Homo sapiens: one gene and its partner. The protein of the gene in region 1 purifies or fractionates together with the protein of each later gene. This does not show direct contact. Each region holds a gene or a part of one and is shown on either strand. Other genes may lie near its edges.

What was found.
Region 2: the proteins of MACROD2 (region 1) and HSPA12A purify together in Homo sapiens (affinity purification with mass spectrometry; one large-scale study listed by BioGRID and IntAct). This does not show direct contact.

The regions. Positions count from the first base shown.
Region 1 is NC_000020.11:15,990,016-15,993,515, reverse strand, and holds part of MACROD2 (ADP-ribose glycohydrolase MACROD2), read right to left. Parts: intron 1-3,500. UniProt on the Homo sapiens protein: Removes ADP-ribose from aspartate and glutamate residues in proteins bearing a single ADP-ribose moiety. Inactive towards proteins bearing poly-ADP-ribose.
Region 2 is NC_000010.11:116,676,567-116,680,066, reverse strand, and holds part of HSPA12A (heat shock 70 kDa protein 12A), read left to right. Parts: intron 1-305; coding exon 306-564; intron 565-3,500. UniProt on the Homo sapiens protein: Adapter protein for SORL1, but not SORT1. Delays SORL1 internalization and affects SORL1 subcellular localization.

The sequences.
Region 1 (3,500 bases):
GCCTACTACATACCAAGGTTATATGGTGTAGTCTATTGCTCTTAGGTTATAAACCCATACAGCATGTTACTGTGCTGAAGACTGTAGATAATTATAATACAATGGTAAGTATTTGTATGTCAAAACATAACTAAACATAGAAAAGGTACAGTAAAAATGTAGCATCATAATCTTATGGGACCACCGGGACATATACGATCTGTTGTTGACTAAAATGTCACTGTATAGATGATAGATGGATTTTATACACACACACACACACACACACACACACACACACACTCTTCAAATTCTCCTTTGAACCAGTTTTAACATCTTAATGATTCCCTTACTAGTTAATCATTTAAATAAAATATTTTACTTGTATTGATTTTATAGTTGTATGACAGCCATAATTTTATCTTTCTGAAAATTTCAATTTAGCATTATATAATGTCTTTGGAAGGAAGTTAAATATAAGGAACAAATGTTAATAATTATACTCACTATCTTTAGAGAAGGTTAATTTTCTGAAGTATTTCAGGATCATATATGTAAAACAATATTATGTTTAGATGAAGGTACACATTAATCTTTTTATTAGTTGTGAAAAAAATTCAGGTACTTTATGCACAGAGAGTTGAGTTGTAGAACTCTAATTCGGCAGAGAGGAGTAAAAAGCTCAATATTTAAAGACAGAATTCCACTTATGTGAGTCATCTTTTGTTTCTGCAAATTATTTTGATAAACCACGTGGTTTGATAAGCCACATGGTTGTAGAATCATACACCTCAGGGCAAGACCAGAAGGACACAGGCATGATACAAAGTTAAACTGTAAATGAAACTGGAGTGTTAGGAAGTGCAAGAAATCAAAGAAGACAAAGGGCGATACAGGATGTAGCCGGATGCTGGAGACTTAGAAGAGATGGTCTCTTAAAATTCCCCAGATGGGCAAGCACAAGTTAATTACAAGTATTGACCCTAACATTCACTTAAACCTACACACATCCTTGAGTTTGTGGTACTGCACGGAGTGAAGGGATGAGAGGTGGTGGTGGTGTCTGAGTGGGAGCCATAGTGAGAACTAGAGACAGCTTACGAAAAAAGGAATGGCAAAGGCTGAAGTGAGAACCAGAGGCAGGAGCTTGGAGCCTGAGATTAGAAGAAATAAACCTGACACCAAAGAATTCTCAGAGATATTGGAAGGAATGATAGATTTCTCCTAACATGAAAAATGGAGTTTCAGGGCAATTTTTTTCTAAATCTTTAAAGACAAGATGATTGCAGCAAGCTAGAGGATTTGAACAAACTCAAGAGGCCTGCATAACTTTCTTACTGGGTAGATACATGTGAACTTTATACACGTATAATCTAACTTTACGCATATACACATGCATATATGCTATCCACACCAACATCATTATTGTAGCAAGAAATCAAAGTGCAAGACAAAGTGCAGTGAATATACCTTTTATTCTTCTATGTTTTTTAACTTTAAAATTATAGGTCAGTTATGCAGCATAATTTGAATGAACTGGTTCTATATGTTTACATTGCATACATAGAGACATGTAGAAAACCTAAACAATTTAGCTTAAAACTTTATAATTTTTATGTTCAAGGTACTTAACCAATATGAGGAATTTCATTAGATACTAAAATATTCATAAAACCCAAACAGAGACCAGCATTTTTAATTTAACTGATATCCTAAAACATAATTTTGGTTGTTGAATTTCAGATTCAAAATATTATTAAAAAAGAAGAAAACAAATGGTAAAACTGCCCTAGAAAACTAAATGATTGTGCTGCTAATATGAATAATATAGTATTACTAAACTTGACTTCATTTGAAAAGAGATACAAAGACTTTCTGAAGGTAGAATGTTCCAGTAAGTTTGTTACTCAACATGCAAGTGTATATAGTATTTTGCATGAATCAAAAATATGCCTGAGCAATGATTCTTTATAGCCAAGAACACAGTCTGTATATGATGGCCCAAGTGTTAGGTATTCTATTCCCAGGGACATGTCCACTGTGCTATTGTGTAATACACAGGTATTCTGTGTATGGCAACACTGCTAGTGCAAGCTCTGCTTTTCAAGGAGAGAAGAAAGGGCTCTGCCAGTGATGTAAGAATCCTATGAGAAATGGAAAACACCAAGGGCTATACAGGGGTGCTTTGTAGATGAGATAAACCTCTAATGGATTTGATTGGTAGAAGCAGAAGAGAAAGTCCCTCACTTGCTATGTGTTCACTAAAAGATGAAATCGTAGCCAGAGGAGTTGCAAAAAAAGATGTTTCCCACATGGACTAAGAAAGATGGTGATGGAAATCCAGCTTGGTTCTGAGCAGAGTTTCTGTGTAAACCCACCTTGAGCTAAAAGGCATTCCCCTCCCCCTTTAAAGTATCTTTAGGGAATAATTAGCTGTCCAATCATTGGTAAGTCCTAATATATTTGGCTGATTTTTTTTTGCCTGGCCTAGGGCACCTCTATATTTTTATCAATAGGGTACAATAACTAAAACTGAGGAAAACCTATGATTTCAGCTTTCAGCATGGCTGACCATTGGCTCCCATGCCATCGCTCTTGTTTCACCAAGAATGTGGTTCTTCAGAGTTGGCCTTCTAAGAAAATTTATAAAACTGGAGAACCTTATAATTGCAATTTTGAGTTCATGCCCCTCATTATTACCCTAGAGACTGGGATTCTTCGAAGTTTAAGGATTGCCAGGAATCACACAGGCAGGGCTAGAAGCCATGGCTGTCTGTACACTATGTCTCAAGGTCATGCTGGTCAGACCATGCTTGGTTCAAAACATGAACCTAAGGGCATGATACTTTACACTTGTCACTGGCTTGCACTTAACTCTTTACTTGCATGCCTGCCCATATGCATCTTTTTCTAAGAAAACATTAAACCATAGTATACTTTAAGTCTCTGTCAACATTTTGCTCAATCTTAGGTAAACAGACAAAGGATTACTATTCCACACTACACTTATTAATTGATATGAAAAATTATTGGGACCAAATGTATTCATTCTGTTTAACACTTAGAGAAAAAAATATCCAATATATATCATAATAAAACATATATGAAAATTTTGTGAAATAATAACTCGATGTTGATATAGTTAAGATTTTATGTCAAATATTTCTAAATTTGCCCAAATAACAAATGTAAGAAAGATGTTTTAATGCTGACTTTATATTTTATACTAAAACATGAGATCCTTTTCAGAGGAGATCTTCTATAATATTACTTTCCTATTTGGTTATTAACCTAAATGACGTTATTCGACTGGATTTCATATGTGTTGCAGGTCCTGCTGGGAAATCATAAAACTGGGCTCATTTAGGAAGAGGCAACGTGGCTATATCAGAAAAGCTGCCATATGTGAAACCTCACTTTCTGCCTGTTGAAATTTTTGTATTTCAGGTCTCCCAGGGACATGTCCACTGTGCTATTGTGTAATTTTATCAGCATGAACTTCTGCTGAATATTTTTCCTTC
Region 2 (3,500 bases), on another chromosome or scaffold:
GTGAGCCAAGATTGTGCCACTGCACTCCAGCCTGGGCAACAAGGGTGAAAACTTTGTCTCAAAAAAAAGAAAACACAAAAATAAAATAATAAAGTAAAGATTGTTGACAAGAGATTTCTGTAGGGAAAAGCTTCTCCACATGGAATGAGAAGCAGCGCAGGGTTCTGAAGTGTAAGTAAACACTTATAGCTGCCGTCCCATTGCTAAGTGGCTCAGAGATGAACAGGTGGGCCTGTTTCTCAGAGTCTGGATTGGGTTTCTAATGGTTTTTAACACCATGGCCTCCCTTTTTGTTCTCAATTCAGGCGGACCCTATGGATCTTTAGGAGTAGATTATGAGTTCGAAAAACTTCTGTATAAAATATTTGGAGAGGATTTTATTGAACAATTCAAAATCAAACGCCCTGCAGCCTGGGTTGACTTAATGATTGCGTTTGAGTCTCGCAAAAGGGCGGCTGCCCCAGACAGAACTAACCCGCTGAACATCACCCTGCCCTTCTCCTTCATTGACTACTACAAGAAGTTCCGCGGGCACAGTGTGGAGCACGCCTTGCGGAAAAGCAAGTGAGTTGGGCTCATCACCTCGGGCTCTGGACATTCTAGCGGGTGGATCGTGCTGATGGGAGAGAGGAGCGAAGTGTGGACTTCGGGTTCCAATCCTACACACTTGCTGTATGACCTTGGGCAAGGGACTCAACTTCTCTTCCCTCAGTTTTTTTCACATGGAAAATGGGGATAATAATTCTATGTAACTCCAAGGGTTGTTGTGAGAATGCAATGAATTCATACATGTTGGGTGCTTAGAACAATGCCTGGGACCTGGCAAGTATTATCTATGTGTTTGCTAAAAACAGAGGAACTATGAAAGCAGCGAAGTTTAGTTTTGGCCCCTGCCATATCCCCAGTGTCTAGAAGAGAACCTGGTATGCAGTAGGTGCTCAATAAATATTTGTGGAATTAATCCAATGGGAATGTAGGTTTCTTGCCACTCTGAGTCCCTTGACTGATTTTGTGTCTCAGCTTGTTGCAAAATGAATATATTTAGAAGACGGTTTAAAGCCGAATTTAAAAAAAAAGATAAAAATAATAGATTTCTAATATTCTTAAACATTTTAAATTTATATATATAATATCCATCATGAAATGATGACTACAGACAGATTTACCTATCTATCATATTTCATAATTACCTTTTTCTAATAATCCTTTTGTAAGGGAACATGTCAAACATTTATCCTGTAAAATACCCCATTGTCCAGCTTCAACAACTGTCAGGTCCTGGCTAGTCTAAATCCAATTATTTTAAAGCAAATCTTAGAAATTAGCATCTCATCTATTTCAGTATGTACCTCTAAAGGAGACAAGTTTTAAATCACAACCACAATACCACGATAACACTTAACAATTAATAATTCCTCAATATTATCAAGTATCTAATTAACATTAACATTTTTCCATTTGTCTTTTTTTTTTTTTTTTTCACTTTGTACCAACATCCAAATGAGGGCTCTACATAGCAGCTATCTGATACGCCCCTCGAGTCCCACTAATGTACAGGTTCCCCTCCTGGTTTTTCCTTCACAATTTATTAGATGGCAAAACTAGTAGTTTGTCCTTAGATTGGAGTTTCCTATCATCTGGGCTTTGCTCATCTCACGTCCGTGGTGTTACACAGCAGGTTCTATCCCATAGCCTTTTTTTTTTTTTTTTTTTTTTTTGCAAGTTGGCAGATGGACTTAGAGGTTTAATCAGATTCAAGTTTGAATCTTTGGCATATCTGCCTTACGGGTGGTGGTTCCTCCTACTGCATCCCATCAGGGGACACGAAATGTCTGCCTGTCTCTCCTTTTGTGATATTAGCAGCCATTGATGATTATTGCCTGGTCCACTAATGCATTAGGGGTGGCTCCATGGCCACCATCTTGGTCCATCACTCCTTCCTCATTTATTTAGCTAGAATACTCCTAGAGAGAGAAACTTGGCTCCTCAGTGGTTTGGTTGCCCTGAACTACAGCTCACTTAGGGAAGACAGGATAAATAGGTTGGGTTTCAACCTCCATTTATGAGTTAAAAAAAAAAAAAGAATCAATTTCCTAGTATCCGCCAAAGTAGCTAATGAATTTTTCCTTTTGTGAGGGCATGAGGGGGAGTATCATTAGGAATTTGAGGATTTAAGCATATTTGATGTATTTTAAACAATGGCAATTCTATCCTTATTGACACCCACACTGTCCCATCTCGGCCAGTAGGAGCCTTCTCACGTTGGCTCTGAATCCCTTTGACATGACATTTGTGGTGGTTGACAGTGTCTTTGCCTCCTTGTATGTGAAGACACTCTTGGCTCATCTTGTACATTCCCTACCCCAGGCCTGGAATTGGCCATTTCCCTAAGAAGCCCTGGTTCCTTTTAGTGGAAGTGAAAGCAGATTTCATGTCAGGTCTTCTTGCCCTTGGAGCAGGGCCAGTCTGGACCCTCTTACTGGGCTGATGTTCTCTGCCCCGTTAGTCCCCCACAGAGGGCACCTGTCCTCTGTTTGGAATCCCAAGACCTACCTGCACAGTTCTGGGGCCTGTCAACCCTCCCACTAAGAAACAGGCTGCAGCCAGCCATGGGGTCATTCCATACCACACCACATTGTCCTTTGGCCTACGCCATGGAAAGGATTCCTTACCAACATGTTCTAGATTCCCGTCCAGCATCTAGAACATGTTCCTGGGAAGCTGCTGGTGTGCACTTTGCATCAGGGACAGAGGCGCCATTTGCTTGGCCTCTGAGAACAGGAGGGGCACGCCCTGTGGGTTTGGGGAATACACAGTCCCTGGCATTTGCTTAGTGCCAGAAAGTTTCCAGAGCGCTTTCACAGACATGGTATTTAACTTCGTCTTTACAACAACCCCCGTGAAGGAGGTAAGGCAAGCGCAGTTATCCCTGACTTCCAGACGTGGAGACTGGGCTTGAAGAAAATGGAGTCTAATCTGCCCAAAGTCCCAGAGCTCCGCAGTGGTGGTGGCCAGGCTAGAGCCCCACAATCCTGGATTCCCGTCCAGGACTCTCTGCTCCACACTGCTGCTTCTGGACAGAGACCGTGAGGGCCACCTAGTAGAATTAGGCTTACTCTGTCACCTGACAGGTGCCTGGAAGGCTGAGGACATGCACCTGAGCGCACACATGTGTAGCCGTAAGTAGCAGTACAATAAACTCGCCAGGGAGCTTTTAACGTGCTTGAATCCAAATATTGTTGGGTTCAAAGTGTGGTCCTGCGAAAGAGACAGTGAGCCCTTTATCTCCTTGTCTTTGCACTAGACTTTGGCCTCCACTATCCCAGGGGAAGGTCGGTCACAGCCAAACTTAAGATACAGAGAAGAGATTATGTCTTAGCTTTTGAGCTTCTAAGGGTCCAGGTCCTGGCAGTTTAGGGTTTCCAAAGGTGCTTTTGGCTTTCAACCCCCTTTCTGCCTGCTAAGAAGTGACAGATGTTCTGCCAGGGCAGGTGTCTATG